Linked DNA regions of Homo sapiens: all the other regions are linked to region 1. The links come from fine-mapping of genetic effects on plasma protein levels. A gene starts in region 1. Each other region holds a variant in brackets. All regions are shown on one strand. Distances are between the middles of the regions.

Evidence for each region. PIP is the chance, under the fine-mapping model, that this variant and not a neighbour inherited with it causes the effect. The UK Biobank Pharma Proteomics Project read protein levels with antibody pairs (Olink). The fine-mapping took linkage between variants from a reference panel, not from the people measured, so its PIPs are less certain.
Region 2: its variant is fine-mapped to the plasma level of the FGFBP2 protein (UK Biobank, PIP above 0.99).
Region 3: its variant is fine-mapped to the plasma level of the FGFBP2 protein (UK Biobank, PIP above 0.99).

What each region holds. Positions count from the first base shown.
Region 1 is chr4:15,957,002-15,967,072 of GRCh38, forward strand. It overlaps FGFBP2 (fibroblast growth factor binding protein 2), which reads right to left and starts at 6,174. Exons shown (of 2, transcript NM_031950.4): 1 at 5,437-6,174; 2 at 3,244-3,610. The coding sequence starts at 6,128. The coding sequence ends at 5,457. RefSeq lists an enhancer at 6,204-7,045.
Region 2 is chr4:15,928,268-15,938,338 of GRCh38, forward strand. It overlaps FGFBP1 (fibroblast growth factor binding protein 1), which reads right to left. Exons shown (of 3, transcript NM_005130.5): 2 at 9,984-10,071; 3 at 7,310-8,385. The coding sequence starts at 8,365. The coding sequence ends at 7,661. Among named protein-coding and RNA genes, the nearest start is that of FGFBP1, 5.4 kb to the right of the region's middle. The variant T/C (reference allele first, on the strand shown) is at 5,607.
Region 3 is chr4:15,946,353-15,956,423 of GRCh38, forward strand. No RefSeq gene overlaps it. Among named protein-coding and RNA genes, the nearest start is that of FGFBP2, 12 kb to the right of the region's middle. The variant C/T (reference allele first, on the strand shown) is at 4,289.

The DNA of each region.
Region 1 (10,071 bases):
ATCAGTGACAACACAAAGAGGGTGACTCCAATCTGTTGCTTCTACCACTCCCTGGTTTGGCTTATTGAATATGGAAGATCATATGATTAATTGCTAGAATTTGTGAACTGTAATGAACTCTTTCAGTGGCTGAGTTCTACTACTGTTCCCAGCCCTCATGATTGGTGACCCATCAATGAGGAAGGCCTGGGTGTGGGTGAGTACTTGATTAATAAAGATGGATGTAGCAGTTACTGAATTAGAACAAATAGATTATGTCACTGTCGAAGGAAAGGAGCACCCCCAGTATTAGGGAGAAACCACCCTTTACATTTCAGTGTATAAACAAATTTCAGTTCATTTTTTTGTATCAAGTAATAGTAGATATTCATATTTTTCTCATGGATATGCTGTTATTTCAGCACCTTTTGGTGAAAAGAATTTCCTTTTCTTTTTTAAAATTTCTTTATAAAATTCAAATAAAATACGTATATCATAAAATATGCCATCTTAACAATTTTAAGTGTATAATTTGGTAGTATTAATTACATTTGTTATGCAACCATCACTGCTGTCCACTTCAAGAACTCTTTTAATCTTATAAAACTAAAACTCTGTAAACATTAAACTAACTTCCCATTCTCACCTCACCATAGTCTCTGGCAGCCAACATTCTACTTTTGGTATCTGTGATTTTTGACTAGTCTAGGTACTTCATATCAGTGGAATCATGCAGTATTTGTCCTTTGTGACTGGCTTATTTTATCTGGCATAATGTACTCATGGTTCGTCCATATTGTAGCCTATGTCAGAATTATCTGCTTTAAGGTTTAACAAAGCCTTTCCTTTTAGGATGACTGAAATATTGCTTGGCCAATGTTACTCTGCATAAAACACATGGAAATGTTAAAATACACATTTCTGGGCCTCACCCCAGATACTCTGGTTCAGTTTGTCTGTGGTGGGGCCTGAGAATTAGCATTTTTTTTGAGATGGAGTCCTGTTCTGTCGCTCAGGCTGGAGTGCAGGGGCATGATTTTGGCTCATTGCAACCTCCGCCTCCCTAGTTCAAGTGATTTTCCTGCCTCAGCCTCCTGAGTAGCTGGGATTACAGGCACCTACCACCACGCCCAGCTATTTTTTGTATTTTTTAGTAGAGATAGGGTTTCGCCATGTTGGCCAGGTTTGTCTCAAACTCTTGGCCTAAGGTCATCTGCCCTCCTCGGCCTCTCAAAGTGCTGGGATTACAGGCATGAGCCACCGTCCCCGGCCAAGAATTAGCATTTCTAAAGCTCCCCAGCAGAAGCAGATGCCTCTGCCCCACCTGTCACCCTTTGGGTAGCACAGATTTTCATCTTTAAAATCACTGGTCAGCTATATGGTGATGTTAGTTTAAAATGTTGGTGAAAAATGGTCTGTGACAAATCCCAGCCTATCCTGTGATGTTTACAAATTGAACGCCATGAGCATTAGAATTGGGTGAACCTGGATTTCTCTGCTGTCCTGACTCTTAACAAGCTGTGTACAACTCACCTCTCCAGACTTTCAAGTCCCTTGGTTTATAATTGGGAATAAAACTACTTACCTCCTAGGGATGTAGTGAGAGCTATATGAGGGGGTGAGTGAAAGGCTCAGAGCCCTTATAAGAAATAGACTTGGTATGTCACAGTAGATGCTTGATGTATATATATTTTAGAAACTCAACCCCAGCAAACGTCCCCTGGCTGCCCCCACCCACCGCCTTCTGTGTCATCTCCAACACTCATCAATGTGTTGTCTTGGTTTCCACTACTTCACTGCACTTCTAAGATGTGAAACCTAGTTGGTTAGTTCATGTCTCCCCTAGCCAATGTGTTGCACAGTGCCTGGGACATAGTTGATGATGAATAAATATTTCTTAATTGTGTGAACTACATATAGAGGCCATATTAGTAGTCTTCAACTCAGGTTACACATAGAATTGCCTGGAAATTACTTAGGATACACCCCAGAGATTCTAATTCAATTAATTAAGGGCGGTGTTTCTCAAACTTGGCTGCATATTAGAGTCACCAGGGGAAATGTAAAATTGCACATGCTCAGGCCCCATCCCTGGCCAGTTACACCGTAACCTCTGGTGCTGACGTCCAAGCACCAGTGTTTTTGAAAAGTTGCCCCAGGTGACTCCATTATGTAGCTAGGGTTGGGCACTGCTGGGCTAGTTGGGGAAACAATTTAAGTACATCAAGAGTGGACTAGTGGGCCAGGTACAGTGGCTCACGCCTGTAATCCCAGCACTTTGGGAGGCCGAGGCGGGCGGATCACCTGAGGTCAGGAGTTCAAGACCAGCCTGGCCAACATGGTGAAACCTTGTCTCTACTAAAAATACAAAAATTAGCTGGGCATGGTGGCACATGCCTGTAATCCCGGCTACTCGGGAGGCTAAGGCAGGAGAATCGCTTGAACCCAGGAGGCGGAGGTTGCAGTGAGCCGAGATTGCACCACTGCACTCCAGCCTGGGTGACAGAGCGAGACCCATCTCGAATAAATAAATAGCCATTAGAAAAAAAAGAGAGAGAGTAGACTATTAATGTGTTCTTAGGTAAGACAAATACGAAATTAAGAAGTGAGTCACTTTTCGCGTATGTCTAATAAAATCTAATTTTCTTCCTTTCCAACTCTGTTGATTAATTTAATTGCTGAGTGTACAGGGTTGTTCTTTTTCAGGTTCACTTCTCTATCTTTTTGGCTAGTTGCTATTGCTGCATGGTGGCTGTGCTGGGTTGAATAGTGCCCACCAAAAATTTATGTCCATTTGGAATCTGTGAATATGATCTTATTTGGGAATAGGGTGTTTGCAGACATGATGGAGTTAAGATAAGGTCTTTCTTGATTAGGATGGACCCTAATCCAATGGCTGGTGCCCTTATCAGGAGAGGGAAATTTGACACACACGCAAGGGAAAATTCCATGTGAAGACAGAGGCAGGGATTAGAGTGATATGTCTATAAGCCAAGGAATGTCAAGGATTCCAGCAACTTTAAGAAACTGACAGAGAGGCATTGAACAGATTTTCCCTGAGACCCTCCAGGAGAAACTAACTTTGGTGACATCTTGAGGCACTTCTTGCCTCCATCACTGTGAGAGAACACATTTCTGTTGCTTTAAGCCACCTAGTCTGTGTAATGCACGATGGCACCCTGAATAAAATAATAGTGACTTCATGGGTATACATGATCCCTATAGCATCTAGGTATCACGTTCATTAAGAAGACTAAAGTCGTATTTCTGAAATCATTCTTTTATTTTGCACACACATAGCTGCTATTTACTGAACACTGGAAATTCATGAATGCGTTACATATTTAAACTTTCATAGAAGGCTCAGATCAACAAAGCAAAACTTCTACAGATAATAAGTAGTTGTGTATGCTTGTCACTCTTGGGCCCATCAGCACCTGTTCCCTATCATATTGCTGAACTCTGCAAACTCCAGAAAGGAAGGTTTCTTTTCCAAACTTCAGAGAAGCTGCAGATCAAGAATTTGGGCCGTTGCATCTGATTAGAAACTCTCTTCTTCCAGTGTGAGAACGTTGGATTGAAAGCGGCATAATATAAAAAGAGATGGTTGTCTGTCAGGGAGAGGTCAGATCTAAAAAAAAAAAAAAAGAAAAAAAAAGGAAGGGATGAAAAATTCTTTCTTTGTTGTTATGGGTTGAATTGTGTGAATTGTGTCCCTCCCAAAACCTAAAAACCGTAGACTTAAGTCCTAACCTCCAGTACCTCAGGGAGCGTTTGTATTTAAAGATAGGGGCCATTAAAGAGGTGGTTAAGGTAAAATGGGGCTGTTTGGGTGGGACTTCATCCAGTGTGAATGGTATCCTAACAAAAAGAGATGAGGACACAGACCCACGCAGAGGAATGACAGAGAGAAGGCTGCCATCTATGAGTCAAGGAGAGAGTCCTCAGAAGACACCAATCCTGCTGACACCTTGATCTTGGAATTTCAGTCTCCAGAATTGTGAGAAAATATATTTCTGCTGTTTAAGCCACCCATTCTGTGGTATTTTGCTATGGCAGCCCCAGCAAGCTAATACAGTAGTCCTATGCAGCTTATCTGCAGGATCAAGATATTGTTTTGAGCTTTAGCGCCTGTATGCATCTGTATATACGCTGTACATCTGTCTGTGTAAATACGCATGGATGGATGTCTAAATGGGTACTCTTCTGTTAACATTGTTTATCTCTGTGTGGTGGGATTATGGATGAAGTTTTAAAATTCTTTGTATTTTTCTGTTGTGTTTGAATTTTTCAAATGATTTGTATGTCTTATTTGTAGAAAGACCAAAAAAATCACTTTAAAAAGAAAAAAAAAAGGACCTCCTCTCAATAGTAACTTTTTTTGGCTTAAGTGTCCCCTTTTCTCCTCTGGGACAGATCTGAAATCTTAAACAAGCAGAAAACCTCCAGCCCAGAACAGCAGACACCAAAACAACTTTGTTGTGAACCAACATTTCTTGCTGCCTGGGCGCTTGTAGAAAAAGCCTTATTTGTTTGGTGGTATTCGTTATCAAAGTGCTGTTTATCAGGAAATCTGCTTTGTTCCTATTTTTCTTACATAGATAATATGAAAAAAACTCAGAAACTCTCCTTTTAAACTCAAAGTGCACAAGTAAGACTAGAATCCCATGTAAATGAACTCCTTACTGGTGTGCAAAATTAATGAAAGCTGCTACATTTAAGGATAGAGATCAGTAATAAGCCTTATTTCCACAAGAAAAAGTTTGGTCTTTTAAAAGCAATACTTGGAGTTGATTAAATCTGTTATTATTAATTAGATTTTCTCCTCTGTGATGAACAAAAAACAATTAAAGGCTTTGAGAGCTGTGAGAAAGACTTTAAAGACTATTTGACTCAAACTTTCCTCAGTGCACAACACTCCCCACCCTAACTTGACTGTAGGAGAAAAAACTGAGAACAAGACGGGGTGTGGCGACACCTCCACCATGACATAGCACCTCGGCCACTAACAGCTGCAGCAAATGCTTGGTTCATTAGGAAACGTTACCCGGCAGAATTCCAAAGGCCTCGGTCTAACAGTGAGGTGGTTCCATCACAAGGAGATTCTCAACCTTGGCTGCACATTCAAATCACTTGGGGGAGAGTTTTAAAAGTCCACATTCCTGCGCTACTATGTTGGAGACATAGATGGAACGGTCTGGCGAGGGGCCTGGGCATCAGCATTTTTAGAGCTCCTTGTAGGTGATTCCTATGCAACTCCAGGGTCAAGTGCCACTCCGGATGAACTACCTCATCTACACTGCTCTGCAACAGACAGCCTCAAACCCACCCCCAAACACACGCTGAGACTCTGATGTGGTCGCAGCAGCTGTGAAAGTGCTAAGTGCCTCTCACGTAGTCTCTGTATATAAGTATATACACGTAGTCTCTGTATATGAGTAAAGGAAAGGGTATTACCTGTAGGGGTCTTTCACCTGTCACCCTCGGAAGAAGCTGATGAGAAAGGCGCACAGGGCCTGGAAGGGTTTCCAACAATGTTCCCAGGCCTTCTTCTTTGCTTCCTCATTCCCTCCGGGCCTGGGTCCAGGCTGGGTAGGTTTGGCTGTGGGTCGGGTGGTGGGTTTGGCTTTTCCCAGCTCTTCCATCGAGTCCTTTCCCAGCTGTGTTGCTTCTGTGAGTTTCACTGTGGCCTTGGGCCTCAGAGATGGCGTCCCAGCCTCAGGCTGCTGGTTGGGCTCTGGGCTGCCCTTGAGGCTGGAAGTCACCTGCTGCATATGGGCCTGGGGTCCAGCCTCCCTGCACACGGATGGCCTAAGCACCGGGGCCCCCTGGCACGCATGGTGAAGGCGCCTCAGCTCCTGCAGGGCTTGATTCCAGTAAGGTTTGGGGTCAGCAGCGAAAGCCTGGCACATGCTGGGCTGCCCCCTGTACTCACACCAGTAGGTCTGGTCTGTGTTGCGGCAGTCGACACGAAGCCAGACTTCTCCAGCACCTTGCCCCAAGCTGCTGGGACGCATAGTGCAGGAATCTCTCCCTCCAGTCTGGAAATGGAATTCCTCCCCAGTGCTTCCTTGCTTTTGCCTCGGGGCCTGACCCAAAGTCCCCAGGCAGGACAAGGTCACCAGCAGGAGGCAGGGGACGAACTTCATGGCGATACTCCGATAAACTTGCTTGCAACTCTGCACCAGGAGAGAGAACACAAGTGGGACGAGTCACCCTTTAAAGGGTGCTGCACAAAAGACTCTTTCTCTGCAAGGGTGGGGAGGATGTTTTGCAGCAAATGAGAAACATGCCCACAGACCTTAGACACGTAACACTTGGCAAGGGCAGAGCAGCCACCAGGGGCCGCCCACCACAAGCAAAGGGAATGGTTTTCCTGAGTGCCTCAGAGAGATCTGCCCCAGCCCTGTCACGCACAAAGCGCCACACACAGCTTTGGGGCTGAGGGTTTTACAGTTTTCCAACCACAGGGTGCTTGCTCTAAAATTGGCCCTTGTACGGGAACAGCCTTCTTTGTCAACATTTGGTATATGCCAAGGTGTGGCAGTGGTATTCTGGAAAGTGAGGTTTGCAGCTGGGAGTCTGGGCTGCCTCGAGGCTCCCTCCTGCTCCCTGGAATCCCCATCTTGGGGGACCATGGGTTTAGTTAATCCAAAGGAAGCCAGAATTTTATGAGCCTAAGTGTTATGAGATGGCCTAGCAAATGCAAAAAAGACTATGTGAGGTTGTGTGAGGATGTGTGTGCCAGAGGGACACAGAGACACTCCCCCTCCCACCCACCGAGCTGAGAGTCACCTGGTGTGGCCTCTGTGGGGCTGTCCCGCCATCACCGTGGCCACAGGCCACAGTGCTGCAATGTTCACTTCCCTTGTTATTGCATGCCTTACAATTGCACCAACTGAATGATGACGAGGAAGGCATGCAAATATATGTTCACAGTGGGATTCAGTCTATTTTAGACCATGAATTCTATTTCAAATTCAATTGAAATAACACAGTTTTAATTATATCACAGGAAAATATGATTTTAAATATTATTATTATTGTTCTACAATAGAAAAAAAATAAATTGAAAATAACTTTTGATTCTGTGTCAAGAATCATAGTTTGGTATGGTCATAACTGTCTTTTGATGACCCTTCCAGAGGGCACTGTGGAGTGGACTAAAGGTGGCAATTTGCTGTTAGGAATAGGGTTGACGGATGTTGGGGGACTAGTTTGAATGTGAGGGATTTATCTTGGCGATCCCACGTAGGGTAGTTGGTACCTGGCACAGCCTTCCTTCCACCTGGATATCCTGAGTCCTGAGAAGACCTAGTAGGGCTGGAACTAAAGCCAGGCTGAGCTTCGGCAGCCACTGTGTGTGTAGCAGTGAGAGCCTTCCAGAAGAGGGCATCACCCCAGGTGGGGAGCAGAGGAAGCTTCCAAGAAGTGGTGCCAAACCTTCAAGACAAGTCAGTCAATTTGTCAGGTTGAGAAAGGGTAAAGGGCAGGTGTTTTTTTTGTTTGTTTGTTTGTTTGTTTGTTTTGGCCTCATTCTGTCACCTAGACCGGATTGCACTGGTGTAATTATAGCTCACTGTAGCCTCCAACTCCTGGGCTCAATTACTTCTCCTGCCTCAGCCTCTCAAGTAACTGGGACTACAGGCATGGGCTGCCACACCCAGCTAAATTTTAAATTTAAAATTTTTAGGGACAGGGTCTCACTCTGTTGTCCAGGCCGATCTCACACTCCAGGCCTCAAGCAATCCTCCTGCTTCCTTGTCCTCTGGAGTCACTGGAATTACAGATGTGAACCACCACAACCAGCTAAAGGTAGGTTTTTTTTTTTTTTCACACAGTCTTACTTTGCCACCCAGGCTGGAGTGCAGTGGCACAATCTTGGCTCACTGCAACCTCCACCTCCCAGGTTCAAGCAATTGTCCTGCCTCAGCCACCTGAGTAGTTGGGATTACAGGCGCCTACCACCATGCCAGGCTAATTTTTGTGTTTTTAGTAGAGATGGGGTTTCACGACGTTGGCCAGGCTGGCCTCAAACTCCTAACAAGTGATCCGCCCACTTCAGCCTCCCTAAGTGCTGAGATTACAGGCACGAGCCACTGCGCCTGGCCAAGGGCAGATTCTTAAGGCAGGATAATGCTTCCTGTAAAGGAGTGATCCTGGAGTGCAGGTTTATGGACTGCTGAAATGTCAAGGGCAAGGAGGCAGTGGTGAGAATCAGGCTGGAGAGGTGACTTAGGGTGGGGTCCGCAGCCCCCGTACCAATCCACAGGGCCAGTTCTAAGACAGAGGCTTGCCCTTTGTGTGCTTCCAACTCAGGAGCCCCTGGAGTAAACAGCACTCCAACCCAGGCTCCATGTCGTGGCCACAGGAAGGCAGGTGTTCAGCTCCAACCTCCTTTCCCCCACCCACCACAGTGTTGCAGGGAACAGCTTGCTAGACCCATCTAGACACCCTGAGGTTATGGCCAGCCCTTTTCAATGCCCTAGTGAGGCTGAGTTTACCCTGCAATGGGAACTTATCATAAGAGCTCTAATCACGCTCTTCCTCTTTTCGCTTTTGGGACAAGCCAAACCTCAAGACCTTTGCACTAGTGCCCACTGCCTGAAAATCTTTTCCTTGAACATCGCATGGCTGCCTTCTCCCTGCCACCTTCACAGAGGCCTTCCCTCGCTATACAATGTAAAAGAGCTCTTCTGTTCCTCTATCACTTCATCCTGCTTTAATCCTCTTGAAGGCAGTGATTTCTCTCTTTTTTTTTGAGACGGAGTTTTGCTCTGTCACCCAGGCTGGAGTGCAATGGCGTGAACTTGGCTCACTGCAACCTCCGCCTCCTGGGTTCAAGCAATTCTCCTGTCTCAGCCTCCCGAGTAGCTGGGACTATAGGCACATGCCACCACATCTGGCTAATTTTTGTATTTTTAGTAGAGACAAGGTTTCACCATATTGGTCAGGCTGGTCTTGAACTCCTGACCTCGGATTATCCACCTGCCTTGGCCTCCCAAAGTGCTGGGATTACAGGTGTGAGCCACCATGCTCAGCCCAATTTCTCTTCTTTCTTATTTGCTTGTTCATCTTTTAAGTGTGGAGTGTCATGATCAGATTTGCACTGTAAGAGACTGCTGTGTTGAGAAAGGATTGGTGGACAGGGGGACTTTGTACAGGGAGGGTAGTGGGCAAGCTGGCTCTGTATGGGCTGAGTTGCTGTAACAAAAAGACCTTCTCTATTATGAACCAGTCTTCCAGGTTCATGCCTGGAAGTTCTTCAAATTTAACACATGCCTTCCAAGGTTTGTTTGATTGCTGCCATTTCCAGTGGAACAAGTCCAGGATCTGCAGTTTTGTCTTAGTAGACACTTCACTTACTTACTGCTGGCCTAAGCCTAGTCACTCAGCCACATCTAGCTGCAAGGGAGGCTGGGAAATATAGTCCCCACCAGGTAGCCTATGTCTAGCCAAAACTCAGGGGGCTGGAAGCCTAAAAGAAAGAGGGGAATGCCTCGCTAGCCAAGAGACATTATGAAAACTGTAAGAGGATCTCATCAGTGGGGATGGAGAGGAAGGCTTTGTGACCAAAGGTAGATGGAAGGGAGGGGGAAAGCAGACTTAAGAGTTCCTCCAGCTCCAGTGATAGGGTGAAGGTGGAGAAATTCAAGAAAGGGAACATGGTGGGGAGAACCTGTGGCGATGTGCAGGTCAGGACAGTGGTTTAAGGCAGGGGCCACAAACTGTGGCCCATGTGGCCTGCTTTTGTAATTTTTGAAGAACACGGCAATATCTATTCACTTACGTATTGCCTATGGCTACTTTTGTGCTGCAACAGAGTTGAGGAGACATAGGCCACATGGCCCAGAAAGCAAAATATATTCACTGTCTGACCCTTTTCAGAGAAAGGTTGCCAACCTCTGGTTTAAGGTGCATCTGGGTGGAGACATGTCATGAACACAGGGTTGGCTGGAGCTCTATGTGATGAGAGAACCAAAGGGAGCAGGTGAGGTGATGAGTGAATGAAATTACCCAAGGAGAGAGTGAGGGGCACACCAGGAGAGAACCTGCGAATGCCACCTAAATTTAAGAACTGGAGAGATGAGT
Region 2 (10,071 bases), 29 kb before region 1:
TGCCACAATCAAGAGTGTGGGTGAGGGTGTGCAGTTGACAGTGGGAGGTGCTGCCTGGCATGGCCCCTTCCCATGCCCCCAGCCATCCTGGCCTTGTTCCCTCTTGCATGTTTATGTCTATTGTACTACGTGGTCCTCCCTCCTGGACGCTGCCTCTGTTTTGCCTTTGCATTTGACTACTGACACCTGCCCCTCAGCATGTCAATCTCTCTCTCTCTTTTTTTTTTTTTTTGAGACAGAGTCTCACTCTGTTGCCCAGGCTGGAGTGCAGTGGTGCGATCTCAGCTCACTGCAACTTCCACCTCCCAGGTCTAAGTGATTCTCCTGCCTCAGCCTCCTGAGTAGCTGGGATTACAGGCACCCACCACCACGCCTGACTAATTTTTTTTATATTTTTAGTAGAGACAGGGTTTCACTATGTTGGACAGGCTGGTCTCAAACTCCTGACCTGTGGTTATCTGCCCGCCTCAACCTTCCAAAGTGCTGGGATTACAGGCGTGAGCCACTGTGCCTGGCCCAGGATGTCAATGTCTCTTGATGATCCTTTTCAATATCTGCTTTTCCACCTGCTGACCCATTTTTGGCAACGTGGTCTAATAATAAGGATAAATAACCGAGCACTGGGCTATGTCCCAGAAATGTTGTCAGGAGCTTCATAAACACCATCTCACCGAATCCTCCCTGCACTCTGCCGTGGTGATAACATTCCCCCAAAGCACAGACAAGAAGGCTAAGACAATCAGAGAAATGAAATGACTGTCTGAGGCCTCCCCAGACAGTGGGAGGCAGAATGAATTTGAAACCCAGGGCTCTGCTCATTCCACTGCCTGGGGCTGCCTCCCCGGCAGACTCCTCTGCTCCAGTATGAGTGCTTGAGAGCACAGCTGCCCGGGGAGGTTCCAGGCTCTGCTCTTACTAACTCTGTGACCCTGGAAAGTGACAAAACTCCTTACACTCCCTGGACAGTCTTGACAATAGGGTGGTCGTGAAGATGAAAGAGCTTATGCAGGGAAAGCAGTTTGAACAGTGCCCAGAGGAGTGGACCTCCACTTTGGGTGTCCAGTGCGATCGCTCGGAGTGCTTTAAAAATTCCTGAGCTGTCCACCCCTACAATTCTGATGGGACTGCTCTGGGGTGCAGCCTGGGCATCAGGATTTTCTAAAGCTCCCCAGGTGATTCTAACCTGTAACCAGGGCTGGGAACCACTGCCTCTAGCATGCAGGAAGCACCTAATAAATGTTGGCTAGAACTCTTTTGTCCTGTCTGGCCCCCACACCTGCTTCTGCTCTGAAGCCATGACCACTCCCCTCCCCACCCTTGCCCTGCCTGGTTTCCCAGCGACTAAGGGGTTGGCTTTGGGCTTTTCCAACAACATGGGCACATATGCCAGGATGGTCCATCTGGGTCCTTGGATTCCTGCCGTTGCAAAACCCCAGCCTACCCTGGGGCTACCAATGTTTGGCTTAGAGCAAGCTTCATACTCAGTCCAGGAAAGACAATTCCAGGAACTGAATTCACAGTTGTGTTAATGGGAGTGGGTGTAGAAGGAGGTGGCACTTTCAGCTTTGAGGGGCCCTAGATAACTCTGGGACTCTCCTATGACATCACTCACCTTGGCTACTTTCAATGGGAGGGGGCTGTTGCTTTACTTCGGAAGCTAGTGCTGACAGCATTTGGTAGCAAATGTGCCACTACTAAATCACATTGTGCCTGGCAGTCAGGTTCTGGAGGCAGTGCTTATGTTTGTAAAATTTATTTTAGTCAAAATCACATTTGACAACCTTTCTTTTGTTGGGTACCAGATAAAGGCATTGGTTTGCATTTAGAGCAAAAATAAAATACCTATTTTTAAACACTGGAAGACCAGAGACAGACAGAAAAGAAGCAAACTCCCATCCGCTATCTTAAGTACACCCCGGGCACATTTTCACTGCATCCAAGGGTGGATTAAGTTGCTTACAGTATTCATGTCTTTACACTTCTCTCTTTCCCCCTCCACAGCAGGACACATATTGTTGAAGGAGCCTAAGTGAATTGTGAATGTGCTACAACTTCACCGTAGTCCAGTTGTTCTCCACTGTGGGTAACTTCATCTCCAGGAGGCATTTAGCAACTTCTGGACATATTTTTGGTTGTCATAACAGGGGGAAGGTTGCTACAGTCATCTAGGTACTAGGGCCAGGGATGCTACTCCACAGCCAAGTATGCACAGGGCTGTTCCCTACTCCAGGGAATTATCAGCCCAAACTCTCAACTTTGTCGAGGTTGAGAAACGCTTCGGTAACCTCTGAGGTTTATTGAGCAGCTGCCATGCACTGCGTGGGTGCTAAGAATAGAGTAGGAAGCGAAGCAGATCCATTCTCTGCTCACCCAGCGCCCACAGCAAGTGGCATCCTGATTCTTATCAGTGGCTCCCCTGAGCACCAAGATCTAAGAGCAGTGAAGGTAGGGGCTGCTGTACCCACAGGAGGGTCTCCAGGACAACCAGCCACCCAGGAGCCTGAGCAGGAGGAGCCTGTAGGAAGTGAGCTGGAAGTCAGGTTAAGAAAGTCGCAGAGGCTACTCATAGGCGCCAGCTTTGTCTCCATCTTCCTCCTTCGTCATGCAAAGTGCTTCTGTGAACTTCATGAGCATGGGGTTCTTAAGGCCCATTGGGTAGAGGCTTTAGGAACCCCATGATCATGCTGCACACAGCCAGGCTCCATCTCACAGGCAGGTCCTTGGCATGGCCTATCTTGAGTCTGGTGTAGCTTTTTTTCAAAAATTGCCTTCTTATCTCCTGTCTCAGCTAATTGGTTCCTTCATTCACTTACTTATAACAAAAATTTAATGAGAATACATATGTGTAAGGACCTAGATTTAGGTTTTAATTATGAATAGTTCTTATTGGATGCATATTCCAGACCCATTTTAGAAATGGAAAATGTGAGATGAAATAACTTGTTACAGGTCACTTTTCTTTTACTCTGGAGCCCGTAATCATTGCCCCTGCAGTGATTTCTCTCCTTCTCTTTCATATACTCAACCAATATTTATGGAGGATCCACTGTGTGCTGGGCATGCACTGAGCACCAGGGCTATGATGGTGGACAAGACAGATTTCATTTCTGCTGTTATTACCTACATTGTATTAGTCTGTTCTCTTGCTGCTAATAAAGATATACCTGAGGCTGGGTAATTTATAAAGGAAAGAAATCTAATGGAATCACAGTTCCACATAGCTAGGGAGGGCTCCCAATCATGGCAGAAGGCAAATGAGGAGCAAAGTTATCTCTTATTTGACTGCAGGCAAGAGAGAGCTTGCGGAGGGGAACTACCCTTTATGAAATCATGAGATGTCATCAGACTTACTATCATGAGAACAGCATGGGAAACACCTGCCCCTCATGATTCAATTACCTCCCACTGGGTCCCTCTCATGATGTGTGGGAATTATGGGAGCTACAATTCAAGATAAGATTTGGGTGGGGACACAGCCAAACCATATCACACATTTTCAACTACTTTATGGAAACTCCCCCTGGAGAGCTCACCTCAAGCGCTCCAGGTCCCAAGCCAGCCTTCTTCTAGAATCTTCTCCCCATCCCTCCCATTCTTCAGAGGGAGTCTCAAAAAGATTTTCTTGGATATTGCTGCATGAAATGGTGAGCATTGTACACAGCACATTATGCAAACCAACACATCAGAGGATGGCTGGTGTCATATCTGCTTGAAAGCTTTCAGCCCCAAACACTTTGGCATTCCTGCCATTTCTGCCAAAAACAACTTCGGAGAGAGGCTGGGGAAGGAGGCTAGGTGAGATCTGTTGGATTCCAGAGATTCAAGTCAGCACTGGTGTGACTGTGAGTTACCACACAGAGCTGGGGTGCCCGAAGGAAGAGACCCTCTTTCTGCCGAGATGTGGTTTTATAAGGAAAGAGAGACATTCCCACTTCTGAGTGGCTTTAGGGGGTACAGACATGCCAATCTTCAGCACATCTTACCTACCGAAAAATTTCCATCTTTTGCTGTCAAAACAAGTCATATCTTAAAGACCACACACACAGAGAAAGTTGGCTTCTCTACTTCATATCCAGAAAGTTCTCAGGGAGAAAATATGTAGCACTAAGGTGAATAGAAGTCAATGTAGCCGGGCACGGTGGCTCATGCCTGTAATCCCAGCACTCTGGGAGGCCAATACGGGTGGATCACCTGAGGTCAAGAGTTAAAGACCAGCCTGGCCAACATGTTGAAACCCTGTCTCTACTAAAAATACAAAAATTAGCTGCGCGTGGTGGCAGGTGCCTGTAATCCCAGCTATTCGGGAGGCTGAGAGAGGAGAATCGATTGAACCTGGGAGGCAGAGGTTGCAGTGAGCTGAGATCATGCCACTGCACTCCAGCCTGGGTGACGAGAGCGAAACTCCGTCTCAAAAAAAAAAGAGGAAAAGAAAAAGAAAAAAGGTAAAAAAAGAAAGTCAATGTAAATCTGTGGAGCCTCTATTTACATATTTCTTTTTACTGTGTTCTTAAAACATCCCCTCAGCATATGACTATGATCGGAGGCTGAGTGCAATGGAAGTGTTCACTTCTAGAACTTTCTCTCTGTAAGGACAGGAAGAAGATATATATGTGGAATGGACTGATGGATATTGTTCATTGTCAAGTTTGGCCTACATCCAGAGACCATAAATGTCACTCTTCTATCACTGAGTGAAGAAAATCATGCACTTCAGAGGCAGAAAGGGCTTGGGACCTCCAGGCCAGGGATTCCCATTATAGGCTCTGCCATTTAATAACTTCATAACCCTGGGAAGGTTCCTCGGCTTCTCTCAGCCTCACTTTCCTCATCTAGAAAATGAAGGTGAGACTCCTACCAGATGGAGTTGTGGGGGATTCACGAGACAATGGAGCAAAACCACTGGCACACAGTGGGTGATCCATAATGGTGGCTCCTGGCCACTTGTACTACAGACACAAATAAACAAAACCAAAAACCTTCCACAGTTAGAGAGTTTTCACTGGGAATTTTGACTTCCCTCTACAATTCAGTCTCCTGCTGTGGACTTTAAGTGGTCAGTGGTGTTGAACAACTATTATCTAACTATTGGCATAGTATTAAGAGATTCAGAGATATTGACCAATGTCAGTGTTTCAGGACCCTTAATAATGGGTGGGTTTCATGATTCCATTGTCAAGATGAGCTCATTTCTGCTCAGAAGATTAAATAATTGGCCCTGAGACTGGTTATCTATCAGCAGAAGCAAACTTTGTGCTGAGATCCAGGTCACTCTTCCATGGTAGAGGCAAAACTCCTTCCAGTTCTGCCAGTGACCAGAGGCCAGGAGTGAACTCAAACCAGCAACTGCGGGCCTGGAGGAGTTTAAGGAGGTTTTGGGTCTGTTCTCCAATGTTCTTGCCAACCCATAACAAACCTGATGACTGTTGAGTGACTCCTGGAGGAGATTATTATTCTTTTTCTATCTCAGGGCTATGTTACATATGTGGAGGAGGGGGCCACAGGGCTGAGAACCTGTGTAGACCTTAAGGGAAAATATCCTTTCTTTGCTGTGGCTTGAAGGAGCTTGGGGAGGGTCTGGAATGTTGCTTCAGTGCTCTTGGAGTTGG[T/C]GGTAAGGTTCACAGGTCAGGCCCCAGGCCCCATCCTACAATGACCCCACCCTCTTGGACATTTCTCTAACATGCCAAGCATGATCCCTGTCATGGGAATGGAAGTGCCATGAAGACAGGGATTTCTTTTTTCTCTTTCCTTCATTGCTATTTCTCACCTATGGTAGAGTTCCTGGCAAAAAGAAGGGACAAATAGGATTGAATAAATAGATTAACCATGATTTCAGGGCATATGTTCTGACTGGTCCCTCTGTTTGGAACATGCTTACCCAGGAGAGTTCCCTGGCTAAAAAGAGATTCCTCTTTTTAGGTCTAAGCTCAAAAGTAACCACCACAGAGAGGCTTTTCCTCTCCACCCCATCTAAAGCTCATTACCCTCGATCACTTTATCCCCTTCCCTTGCTTTAATAGTCTTCTCTATCGTGTATCATGTATCATGAGCTCATCATCACTTTTCCCACTGTTCCATGAGGGCAGAACACTCGTCTCTTGTACATCCATTGCTGTATCTCTGGCACCTGGAACACAACCTGGAGTGAGTCAGTGCTCTGTAAGTTATGTGTTGAGTGAGTGAGTGAATGAATAAATCCACTATCCATGGGAAAACTTGGAACAGTGCTTGCTCATAGCAGGTAAGAGATAAGTGCTCTTTTTATTGATGATCATGATGACATCCAAATGTCACTCTGAGGCTGTGGCACTGTGGATTGGCCTCTGACGTCCTCAGTGTGCATCCCAGTAGGTTGGTGAATGTAAAAGGCTTTCCTTCCCCCCCACCTGCCATTCCTCCCTGCCACCATCAGACATGCTAAAGAACAGTGCTTTCGTCAGCTTCTGCTCCTCCTTTCCCTGGTTGTGGAATTGTGACAAGGCATTGGAGACAGTTCATCCTCTCTCCCCCACTCTTAAAATACAACTTTCAGATCCTTCATACTAACATATAAATGAATAATGGCAGTCTCATCGCTGCATCCCATCCGATCCCAGACACCTGACCTCTCCCAGAATCTGAAACTTCCCATCTATTCACTTTCATTCATGTTATCAAATGCCTAAAGTGCCTCCACTTTGCCCCATTTTATTCCCACAGATACTCTTTCCAAAATCCAGCTCCACTATTCCCTCCCCTGTTACACTCAAGCCCAGATCTTACAGCAGTTTCTGCCTTCTCTCTCTGGTTTTCCTTGTAGCCCTCTCCCCCTTCCTTTATAGCCCTTATCTTGGGCCACTGTACTTAACTAGGCCTTTCTTCTCCAAGAATGAAGAATGAAGGAATGAAACTCATTTCTTCTCCAGAATTGAGCTTTGCAAGGCCGGGGTCTTTCGGGTGGGGGAGGGAATGGGCAGCTCTGACATGAATCAGTAGCGGAGGTTCCTCAACCCTGTAGACTCAGCTGTCAGAGCTCCTGGGTTCCAATCCTACCGGCCCTCTTACCATCTATGAGTCCCTGACAAATGATTTAATCACATTATATACCAGGTGTCCCACCTGAAAACAGGGATCCTAGTTATTATACTTCAATAAACACCAAACACCACTGACCAATGGATACAATTATAAAGAAGGATTCCAGAAAGAGATAACTTGCGAAGGGTGGGGAACTGGAAGTTCCTGTTTAGATTGTTTTTCCATTGATATATGGGGACTACTTAATGAGTTTATTTGGGACCAGACACAGAGAAAACCAAGCAATGTTTGAATGTATTTCTGAAAAACACCCAGAGTTTTATTACCATTAATTCAGCAGAAAGTTCGTTGCACTGAAATTATCACTCTGGCTCATTCAGCTCAAAGACTCTTCGCTGCTCAAACACATAGCTGTGTGGGCCATGGAAATACATGCTGCAGGAAACAGCCTCTGAACATCGCATCCAAGAAAAATAAGGCAAATTCCAAAACACAAAAGCAAAAAATACAAAACTTGTTTAAATATTTCGTTGCACTCACTAAGCACAAAAGTTCATATTTTGGGGGGACTGTAGAGAGCTTTAAAGTATACAGAGGGACTTACGACATGACATCTCTTAAGGGAACCCGTTCTCTTTTGACCTCATTAGCATGACGTGTCCTGCACTATGCTGAGGAAGAATGTGCAGAGAGAGCTCCAAGTCTCTCCACAGAACTCCAGGGCAGTCTTCCTCTGGTTTGCCATATCTGGGTCCTCCACACACTCGGGAGCTTTGGTGGCCATGGTCTGGGTCACTGCTAGGCTAGAGGGGGTGGTCTCTTTGCCTTTGATGTGCTCCCTGGGGGACATCTCTGTTTTCTCCTTCCTGGGCTTTGTGTTCCCAAATAGAGTGGAGCTGACTAGCTTAAGACTGGATTCTGGAAAATCCTTTCTGCACACTCTGGTTTTCACAGCTGTCTTGGAATATCTACAGATGTCTTTCTGTGAGCGCAGATTCCGGGCAACTTGTTTCCAATAGACTCTCTCATCCTTGAGCTTTAGGCATGAGGTTGGATTGCCAGCAAAGACACAGGAAAATTCATGGTCCAATTGAGTGCACTCAACCTTGAGAGAGATGCCCTCCTCCTGCTCAGTAGCAGCCCATCTGCAGTTGGCTTGGTCTTTGGTGACAAACTTGCCTTTGTTCCCGGGCCTGCTTTTCTGCTTAATCTGGGTGTTGCCCAGAGTGTCCTTTTGTTCTGAGACCACTTTGCTGTGAAGTCCATTCTTCACTTTTTTTTTCCCCTCCACCAGGAGCACCTGAGCAGCCAGTAGGAGGAAGGAGAGCAGGGTGAGGCTACAGATCTTCATGGCTGCAGCTGGGCGTTCACCTGTTTGACAAAAGGCAAGTGAGTCAGTGGCAGGCAGCAGTTCAGCTGTGCAGGACTACACGCTGGCCTCCCCCTACCCTGACAGGTGCCTACATGATTTCAGAGTAGACCAAGAACGCTTCTGGCTCCTGGAGTCACTAGACAAACAGCCTGTCTACTCACATTTCCACTTGACTTGAGTCTTGAGTGTCACAAAAGTACCACTCTTTGGAGCCTCACGAACTCTCATTTATCATTTATTCACTCATTAACTCCTGCATCTGCTCACTCCTCACTCTTTCATTCACTCATTCAACAAGCATTTACTGAGCACCTACTATATGCCCCCCACCAGACTAGGTGTTGAAGAAATCACCATGATTGAGAAAGCCTCAGATTTGAAAGAGCTTAGAGACCACTCTTTGGGAGAATTTAAATAGCATTGATCAGGGAATCTATCCCGTCATCTCTGTTTCTGATATGAAACAAGTTACTGCTCCAAACTTTCAGCTCCAAAGGGCTGGATTTCTATCTCATGACTCCATATGGACACAGATGCCCAAAATGAGAAAAGACATGACAGATGCCCAAAATGAGAAAGGATGTGGTAAGCATCATGAAAGGTGATGTTGACCCAGAGTTGAACATGCCTGGGGTTTGGGTGGGGTGGGTGGGGTTGTGGGGGTGGGGGAGCTTTTTGTGGGGAAGTAAGAGTTTAAGGAAAGGTGTGAGGTGGGGTGGTTGTCTGATTTGCCTGGGCAAAGTGAATCAGGGTGGAGAGAGGTGAATTTCAACCAGATAGTTCACACTACAAGATCGAAGACAAGGATCATGAGAAATCATTGAATCAATAGGATGAACACCAACGTCACACTGAACTGCATGAATCTGATCATGTGTACAATAAAAACCCATGCTTAACAGAAGAAGAGAAGTCAGTTTCTATATGACACCTCCTGTGTGCTAAGTACTGGTCTAGGGTTTGATTCCCACCTTGTGAAATCCACACAAGAGCTCTTCCAGGTAGCTATTAATATGTCATCCCAGGTGACAGCTCTGACTCTTAAGGCTCAGACAGGTAAGTAAATTGCTCAGGATCTCATAGTGGGCAAGTTCAAAGCTGGTATGGGTAGCCAGATCAATCTCCTTATTCCTTTCTGTCACCCCTGGTTGATCACTTTTTGCTTTTCACATTTACTCTGCCCTTTAAAAACATTGCCAAAGAATAAGAAAAACAACTATGAACAATGACAATTTAGTTTCATATAACACATAATGATAAGATGATTTGTATTATTTGTGCTCCATTTAAAACAAAACACAGAATTTTTTATAAAAAGAGGCAGACCCAGGAAATGGTCCTGATCTGATTTCTACCCTAGAAGTTGGCCATCTTCTAGGGTTAAGAAGGAGAAAGACAATCACAAAAGGGCAGAGAACAGCAATAAATGGTGAAGAGGAGACTGGATATGCCAGAAAAACACCCAGTCATTTCTCACGGCCCTGGGGCTCAGCCCCCACCTGCCCATGATGGAATGCAGGCCCAAGGAACTCCAGGCCCTTGGTGGAGTGAGAAGTGGCAGCAGGTAATAAAGCTGTTAAAGGAGCGAGGCTCTTACCTTGTTCTGAGCACACGGATCCAGTGCAATCCCAGGCAGTGCGAGTGAATTGCAGGCTGCAGCTGTGTCAGGTAGAGTGCAAGGGGGG
Region 3 (10,071 bases), 11 kb before region 1:
TGAGAGCAGTGAACAGGCATGTGCAAAGGAAACCAAACACAAATGGGACCTAGCCTTATAACAACCCACTCTTGTGTTAACTAATCTACTCTCATGAGAGTGAGAAGTCATTCCCACAAGACAACATTAATCTTTTAATGAAGACAGATCCCTCCTGACCCAAATGCCTGTAATGCCTCTCAACATCATTACATTGGGGACCATGCCTCTATATGAGCTTTGTTGGGAAGGCACAGACCAAGAGTAATAAAATCAAAAGTCAACAGAATGGTGTGCAGGATGACACCAGGTAGCTTCAATTATGATAGAAGAAATCAGTCTCATATCTGCCTAGCCCTTGGGACAATTTATGGTAATTGATCCCTGTAGAGTTTGGGCCCTACATTTGGCCTCCTCCCCTTACGTGATGGAGGCAAGATGGAATTTTTATAAAGACACCTTAAGTCCTGGGCAAAAAAGAAACTCATTTAGGTGTTTATCTGATGGCCTGAAATTTTAAAAGAAGTTGTTTGAGGAGGCCATTTTGTATCTCAACAACACCAGTTTTCTGAGACCTATAATCTCCTGTAGCACAATGACATCTACCAGGTGACTGAGAATGAACAAAGCTACAACCCTATAGAGATAGAATATGCCCAAGGACCCAGTATTGGCTCCATCCTGTCTAAGATGCCCTCAGTAGCTGTGTGAAGCTTGTGGGTACTGTACCTATGACCCAAAACATAATGAGTATAGAGGGTCATGGGCTCAGGTCACAATAGCAGCAAGGCCAGTAACAACAAAGAGATTTGCCCATATAGCAATATTTAAGGTTTCTAGGAGTCACAGTTTTCCATGGGGAGACACCCTACACCTCGCCGCCAACCATTAGAGATGGGCCTGTCTAAATTTGGAATCAAATGGGTGAGTATCTTCATAGAGTCCCAATGCTCAGGGGCCCAACAGTCAATGTCAACCTGTGATGGACTGTTCAAGGAGGACCTCACTTGTCCAGGACTTTGTCCACCAGAGTAAGAGAAGATTTGTTACAAGAAGGGAGTTGTGCCTGGGCCTGAATGCCCAGCTCCTGAATTCTCTATGGTGAGCCCTGTCTACGGTCTTGGCAGGCAGGTCATCAGTCTCGGTGCCCTCAAAGCACCCTAGGGGCAGCCACTCCCTGCTCCTCCTCTCTCCAGAAAGCGTTTACTGTACTAATTACCCAAATTGCCTGCTTAACCTCACATCTGCCTGGTCACTTGGTCCAGTAAGGTGTGCACTGGGGACCTCTCTCACTCCCAATGGTACTACTACCTGTGCAAAGCAAGATCTGAGGTCCTTCCCTTGCCACAGTTTAGACTAGAAAACTGTGAAAGGGCACAGCAGAGGTAGCACAAGGCAATGGCAGCCAAAGCACAGGCACCCCACCGGCCGGCAATGCCCTCCCAAGTAGAGCTAATTCCTCCCTGGATTAGCTAATTCCTAAAGATAATACAGTATATGTGGTTGGCACAGTCAGCTAACGAGCCAAGAGCAGAAGGAGGCACGGTCCTTATGGAACACTGAGTCACCTTGCCGGCTGCTCAACTGTCCCAAAACGTACCTGTGGGATTTTAACTCATGAACGTGACTGAATGATGACACAAAGAGGCTGGTGCCATTGAAAAAATAATTTACTACAGTTACCTCCTCCCCACACCCCCGTATCTACAGGTTTCACATTTGTGGATTCAATCAACTGCAGATCAAAAATATTTTTTAAAAAATTTAAAAAAAACCATGAAAAATAATGCAAATAAATAATACACTATAACAATGACTTACATAGCACTTATGTTGTATTAGGTATTGTAAGTAATCTAGAGATGACTTAAAGTATACAGGAAGATGTGCATAGGTTATATGCAAATACCATGCCATTTTACAGAGGAGACTTGAGCATCTGCAAATTTGAGTACCCATGGAGGTCCTGGAACTAATCCTCCTTAAATACCCAGGCATGACTGTACTCACCTTTCCAAAGAGAAGGAGCATGCCACAGCACACAGGGCTTCAGCAGGAGAAACATGAGGTTTGGGTCAGGTGGTGAAAGCAGGAGCGAGGGAACACCTAGGCCAGAGCCCTTATCATCGTTTCCGAGGGAAAGTTGAGGCTGGATGGAGAATATGGTCTCGGATGTGCTGGTTTTAATAATTCCAGCAGGCTCTGGGGCACGTGGTGTGGCTGTCTGGTCCTGTCTCCAGGTAGATTTAGGGTAAGGGTTAATACTGGCTTGGTATGTGAGAGTTAGATAAAGGGAATGGTTGGTTTACATGTGACAGGCGTGATCCCAAACATACTGTGTCATCTTTAGGAATTAGCTAACCCAGGGAGGTCTGTCTCTCCCTGAATTTATCAGGTTCCCAAAGGTATCAAAACAGCATGAGTTGAAAAAATAAAAGCACATGATTAATACGACCACCCAGTCTCATAGATTAAGGAACATGAATGTCACCATCATGCTTGGTTTTGTATCACCTCAGCTTTTCTCCGCATTTGTACTTTGTTTTCTCGGACTAATTTTCTCTACTTCGTGGGAAACACGGGTGTCACCAGTTCCAAGCCAAGCAGAAGTGCGAACAATCCCAGGGAGAGATATGATAGGTTGGTCTTGAGTCGCATTCCTGCCATTGGATTTGTCAACCATGGCCAAAGAGCAGGATTCTATGATGAATGGCCCAGGCCTCTGAAACATGCAGCTGGGTTTGGAGGAGGAGCAACTATTCTCCCAGAAGGAGAGCGCTGTTCCCAGAAGGGAGAGAACCTATAATGTAATTGCCTGTGCTGGAAGAAAGCTACGGATAAGGTCAACAAAGAGGTTTGCGGGGGAACATTCAAGGTTTCACCTTAGGCTTCATCCAGACCAGGGGCTGTCAACCTTGCCAAGGATGAGGATCCTCTTACAACATCCACACTCTGTGCAGACCTGCCCGTCGCAGCACTCAATCACAAACTGTGACTGAGAAACAATGTGATGGTAAGAGTGACAGCAGCTACCACTTGAGCTATTACTCCTTGGAATTTGTGTGGATAATCTCATGTAATCCTTGAATCACGCTTAGGAGACAGGTACTGTTATTATTCACATTATGGAGAGGAGAAAATAAAAGATCACTCAAAACCAGACAGCTAGTGAACGATGGGCCAGAGTCCAAAACAGGTCATTGATTCAAAAAAATGTATTCACTTAACCTATGTTATCAAAAAGTGCCACACGGCCGGGTGCGGTGGCTCATGCCTGTAATCCCAACACTTTGGGAAGCCGAGGCAGGTGGATCACCTGAAGTCAGGAGTTAGAAACCAGCCTGGCAAACATAGTGAAACCCCGTCTCTACTGAAAATACAAAAATTAGCCTGGCCTGGTGGTGGGCACCTGTATTCCCAGCTACGTGGGAGGCTGAGGCAGGAGAATCGCTTGAACCCAGGAGACAGAGGTTGCACTGAGCCGAGATTGCACCACTGCACCCCAGCCTGGGCAGCAAAGTGAGACTCTATCAAAAAAAGAAAAAAGAAAACAAAAAGTGGCACAATAGTACATGGGATTGGTAATGCCTTTAAATACAGTTGCATTTTATTTACCACAATGCTATCTACGGTCATTTGAAAATGAATTGTACATTTGTTTACAATAAATATTACTAATTTTTATTTTTTCTTTTAAAATATTTTTTAGGCATGGTACGGTGGCTCATGCCTGTAATCCCTGCGCTTTGGGAGGCTGAGGCAGGGAGATCACTTGAGGCCAGGAGTTTGAGACCGGCCTGGCCAACATGGAAAAACTTTCTCTTTAATAAAAACACAAAAATTGGCTGGTAGGGATGGTGGTGAGCCCCTGTAACCCAGCTACTTGGGAGGCTGAGTCTTGAGAATCACTTAAACCTGAGAGGAAGTGATTGCAGTCAGCCAAGATCACACCACTGCACTCCAGCCTGGAAAGACTCCATCTCTAAATAAATAAATAAATAAATATTTTTTAGAGACAGGGTCTCACTCTATCACCTAGGCCAGCATGCAGTGGCACAATTATGGCTCACTGCAGCCTTGAATTCCTGGGCTCCTGTGATTCTTCCACCTCAGCCTCCCAAATAGTTAGGACTGCAGGCACACACCATCACACCCAGCTAAGTTTAAAGTTTTTTTTGTAGAGACAGGGTCTCATTTTGTTGCCCAGACTTGTCTTGAACTCCTGGACTCAGGTGATCCTCCTGCTTTGGCCTCCCAAAGCACTGAGATTATAGCCACTGTGCCTGGCAATATGTTGCTAATTTAATGG[C/T]CTCATGAATCCCTACATCTCCCCCTTCTAGCCCAATGTCCTCTATTCTCCCTACCCCAAGCCAGGCCCTGCTCTGGAGTCCTTTGGGGTCACCACTTGGAAAACTCTGAGATAACACAGGCTGCCGCTCCCGAATGACCAAGGGGAAGAAATTCCACTGGGGCACTGGAAGAGGAAAAACAGTATAGGCATCCCATAACCAGCTCATCCTGAGAACTTGTACACCATTTCAAACATGGCGGAGACAAACCCTACAGAAGGACGGTGTCATCTGAGTGTGACAAAGGGAGGGATAGAGAATTAGACTCCTGCCCATGGGGCAGGTTTGATTTAGTAACATGTTCCCCCTTCTTTCAATGTAAATGATCTGAAAACAAAAAAGGGGCCAGAAACCTGTTTCACTCTCCCTTTAAAACAATTATCTGAATAAATTCAACAACTTAATTTGTCTTAGGCTTAGAACTTACACTAACAAAATGTTGTGACAAATTTCCATATTTAGCAGTGATGTGATTTCATATTTTGCAGTGATCAGGCTGATTTAGGCTCATGTCTTTCCCAGATTTGGTTGCAAGACTCATATTTCCAGTTTTCAGAAGCATCTGTGACTCCATTGAGATAGCATGTGGCAACCTTATCCAGGAAGACCAGTCTGATGTATGAAGAGTTTTTCCTTCCTGTTTCATCAAGTTTATCTGTCTACCTGATTTATAATCATACTATGAATCTGCATAGCACAATATCATTGTCAAAGCCCTTCACTGTGTATTATTACTATATTAGATCTTTTTAAAATTATTTTATTTATTTGTTTGTTTGTTTATTTATTTTTGCAGAGACAGCATCTTGCTATTTTGCTCAGGGTGGTCCTGAACTCCTGGACTCAAGCAATCCTCCTGTGTTGGCCTCCCAAAGTCCTGGGATTACAGGCATGAGCCACTGCTCCCAGCCCCATCTGATCTCGATAGTCCTCAATAAGGAGTAGCCATTATTATCACCTGAAATAAAGATGAGGAAACTGACTTCTTTAGTGACTTCCCTCAAGTTTGTTGAAGTGTTTCATTTCAACAAGTACTCGTTTGCTAAAGTTAGGCCCAGCTCTCCCATTCTAGTAGAGAAAATACAGTATTTTTTTCTTACTCTGGTGGAAAAAGATGAAAAGTGATACCACAATCCAAAACTAAATCTGGCAGTAACTGATGCATGCTTCTAGGAAGAGTCCAGCAGAAAGCTGCACAGGGGAAATCTTGGTACCTCTTCAGTTCACAGCCTGACCTGGTTTGGCTTCAAGAAGCAGAGAGGACCACAGAAAAGGAGAGAAAGAAAGGGAACAGATACTTCCAGGGAGGTGTGAGACAAAGGGTGAGTAATTCAAAGGCTAGAGAGAGATGGTGAATATGTGCTCACATAAAACAGGTCACTCTCATTTAATAGGTCTAAAGACTTTCTCAGCTCTAATTTCTAAGGTGTCAATAGCTAATGACTTCATGGTAAGGTAAGAAAGATGTTGTTTAAGGAACAGCTACAAAACCTCCCAGCTGCCTACAGAAGGGCATTAGGCTTGATCTAGAGGCAAAATATGTCCTTTAAGAGTTCCTCTGTGCTGATTATTAACTGTAATCATTGTGGGGCACAAAAATATGTTACATATTAGTAGTTAGAAACACAACAAAGGATTTTTAGTTTTTTTTTATTTCTATAGATTTTTGGAAAACCGGTGGTATTTGGTTACATGAATAAGTTTTTTAGTGGTGATTTGTGAGATTTTGGTGCACCCATCTCACAAGCAGTATACACTGAACCCAATTTGTACTCTTTTATCCCTCACCCCCTCCCAACGCTTTCCCCCTGAGTCCCCAGAGTCCACTGTGTCATTCTTATGCCTGGTGTATTAGTTTGTTTTCATGCTGCTGATAAAGACATACCCGAGACTGGGAAGAAAAAGAGGTTTAATTGGACTTACAGTTCCACATGGCTGGGGAGGCCTCAGAATCATGACAGGAGGCAAAAGGCACTTCTTACATGGTAGCAGTAAGAGAAAATGGGGAAGAAGCAAAAGCCAAAATCCCTGATAAACCCATCACATCTCATGAAACTTATTAACTACCGTGAGAATAGCATGGGAAAGACCATCCCCCATGATTCAATTACCTTCCCCTGGGTCCCTCCCACAACACATGGGAATTCTGGGAGATACAATTCAAGTTGAGATTTCAAAGGGAACACAGCTGAATCTTATTATTCTGCCACTGCCCCCTCTAAATCTCATGTCCTTGAATTTCAAAACCAATCATGCCTTCCAAACAGTCCCCCAAAGTCTTAACTCATTTCAGCATTAACCCAAAAGTTGACAGTATGAAGTCCCATCTGAGACAAGGCAAGTCCCTTTTGCCTATGAGCCTGTAAAACCAAGCTAGTTACTTCCTAGATACAATGGGGGTATAGGTATTTGGTAGATACAGCTGTTCCAAATGGGAGAAATTGACCAAAAGAAAGGGGTTACAGGGCCCATGCAAGTCCAAAATCCAGCCAGGCAGTCAAATTTTAAAGCTCCAAAATGATCTCCTTTGACTTCAGGTCTCACATCCAGATCACACTGATACAAGAGGTAGGTTCTCATGGTCTTGGGCAGCTCTGTCCCTGTGGCTTTGTAGAGTACAGCCTCCCTCCTGGGTACTTTCATGGGCTGACGCTGAGTGTCTGCAGCTTTTCCAGGCACACAACAGTGCAAGCTGTTGGTGGATCTACCATTCTGGGGTCTGTAGGACAGTGGCCCTCTTCTCACAGCTCCACTAGGCAGTGCCCTAGTAGGGACTATGTGTGGGGGCTCCAACCCCACATTTCCCTTCTGCACTGCCCCAGCAAAAGTTCTCCAAGAAGGCCCCACTCCTACAGCAAACCTTTGCCTGGGCATCCAGGCATTTCCATACATCTTCAGAAATCTAGGTGGAGGTTCCCAAACCTCAGCTCTTGACTTCTGTGCATCTGCAGGCTCAACACTGTAGGAGATCAGTCAAAGTGGTGGGAGAAATTATAGGCAAAGGGCACAAACCTTTGGAAAGGTCAGAAGGCTCTGCAAAGCTTCAGGGAGAATAAGATAAAGGCAGCTGTTCTCTTACCCTGAGGCAGTGGGTGAGAAGTAGGTACAAGGGAGTGCAGGGGAATTTATCTAAATAGGCTTGTTTACTCATTTTGACCAGAAAAAGACCTTTGATCATCCGCGCGTGACCAGTTCCCTAAAAGGAGAATAATAAATGTTAATTACCCACAGACTGTGTTTGCTCCAGGCTTTCGGCATTATGCCTGTACTAAATAAAAGCAAGCAGCTCCAGCTTATCGAGGCTGCTCTTTTCTTTGGTCCCTAGTGCCAGCAGCCCCCTAGCTGCTCTTACACTGCATGCCTGTGTCTGAGTACTCCTTTCATCTGTCGCTTGGCCAGGGTCTGCGGGATGGACCCAGCAGCTGGTGCCCCTGTGAGACTCAAAACTTCCAAGGCTTGAGGCTTCCACCCTCTGAAGCCACAGCCTGAGCTTTACATTGGCCCCTTTCAGCCATGGCTGGAGCAGCTGGAACACAGGTCACCAAGTCCCAAGGCTGCGCACAGCATGGGGACCCTGGGCCTGGCCCCCTAAACCACTTTTTCCTTCTGGACCTCTGGTCCTGTGATGGGAGGGGCTGCCCTGAAGGTCTCTGACATGGCCTGGAGACATGTTCCCCATGGCCTTGGGAATTAACATTAGGCTCCTTGCTACTTATGCAAATTTCTGCAGCTGGCTTGAATTTCTCCCCAGAAAATGGGTTTTTGTTTTCTATCGTATAGTCAGGCTGCAAACTTCCCAAACTTTCATGCTCTGCTTCTCTTTTAAAACTGAATGCCTTTAACAGTACACAAGTCACCTCTTGAATACTTTGCCGCTTAGAAATTTCTTCCACCAGATTCCCTAAATCATCTTTCTCAAGTTCAATCTCTAGGGCAGGGACAAAATGCCACCAGTCTCTTTGCTAAAACATAACAAGAGTCACCTTTGCTCCAGTTCCCAACAAGTTCCTCATTTCCATCTGAGACCACCTCAGCCTGGATTTATTGTCCATGTTGCTACCAGCATTTTGGACAAAGCCATTCAACAAGTCTCTAGGAAGTGACAAACTTTCCCACATTTTCCTGTCTTCTTCTGAGTCCTCCAAACTGTTCCAACCTCTTCCTGTTACCCAGTTCCAAAGTCGCTTCCACATTTTTGGGTATCTTTTCAGCCACGCCCCACTCTACTGGTACCAATTTACTGTGTTAGTCGATTTTCACACTGCTGATAAAGACATACTTGAGACTGGGAAGAAAAAGAGGTTTAATTGAACTTACAGTTCCACATGGCTGGGGAGGCCTTAGAATCACGGTGGGAGGTGAAAGGCACTTTTTACATGGTGGCGGCAAGAGAAAATGAGGAAGAAGCAAAAGCAGAAACCCCTGATAAATCCATCAGATTTCATGAGACTTATTAAATATCATGAGAATAGTATGGGAAAAAGACTGGGCCCCATGATTCAATTACTTCCCCCTGGGTCCCTCCTGCAACACATTGGGAATTCTGGAAGATACAATTCAAGTTGAGATTTGGGTGGAGATAGGGCCAAACTGTGTCACCTAGCAAAGGATTTTTATGCTCATATTTTTCTTAGCCATTTTATTCAAAGCAGCTAGATGCCATAATTTATGCATCATCTGGAATCACTTAAATTTTTTCTGCAGAAGGTGTGATTGATAATTGTGAAAAATGTCAATAATTGTCCTAGTGTCCAAAATGCCCCCCAAATCAAATAACCTTTGAATTGCTGAACGTAAGTGCAGGAATGTATAGTGGAGATCATGTAGGTCAATGCCACCAGTTTAAATCCATCCATTTGATTAATTGGACAACTATTTGCCTTATTTGTAAAAACTAAAGCCCCACCTGTCAGGTTCCCCTCAAGTACTAAGGGCAGAATCGAAAATGCACAGATTTCTCATATTAAATGGAAGTGGAACACTTCATAGGGCAAGTCTGGTCTCATAGATAATTCTCCTTACACAAGTAAGTTGAGACCTCACCTTTAGGGTCTTCTTGTCCCTCTCTTGATTACTCAGAGGGACAGCTTTTGACTACCTGGAGACCACTCCCAGGAAGTCTGTGAGGATGCTGGGGCTTGGTTTACTGAAGACTAAAAGTGCTGGTGTCCACCTGGTGGCAGCAGCCATCTAGCCCTAGAGACAACTCTGGAAGAGCTGCTGCAGGAGGAGCCCGTAGCCCAATGAGCTATATGGAAAGCCATTACCTTTGCCTTATTCAGTGCTCGTAAGAACCAGACATGCCTTTTTCACCTACTCTTGGGTACAGCCAGCAAGCTGTCTGGTTGGTGACAACTGACCGGTATATTAAGGACACTCCTCTATGGGGCTATAAGCTATTGACAGCCACTACTGCAGCCTCAGGAGACATTTTTGTAACCCTTGTGGATGCCATGGAAGGGATGCATATGAGGTGAGACAACATGAAGCCAAGTGGGTGACTGGACCCTCCAGCCCTGGTGGCCAGCATCACTGCCTCAATCCATTATTGGACTGGAGATGGTAATCTTGCCACTAACACAATAGACTCAAAAGTTAAACCTCATCTGAGTGCCACAGAGAATAAAATGGCCTACTGGGACTGTGGTTCCTCTGGTTCCTCTCCACAGTTGATCTCTCAGTCTAAAGGTGACAGGGATCATTAGCTCTGGGGGTGGGGCCTGACTTTGTCTGGCAAATACAA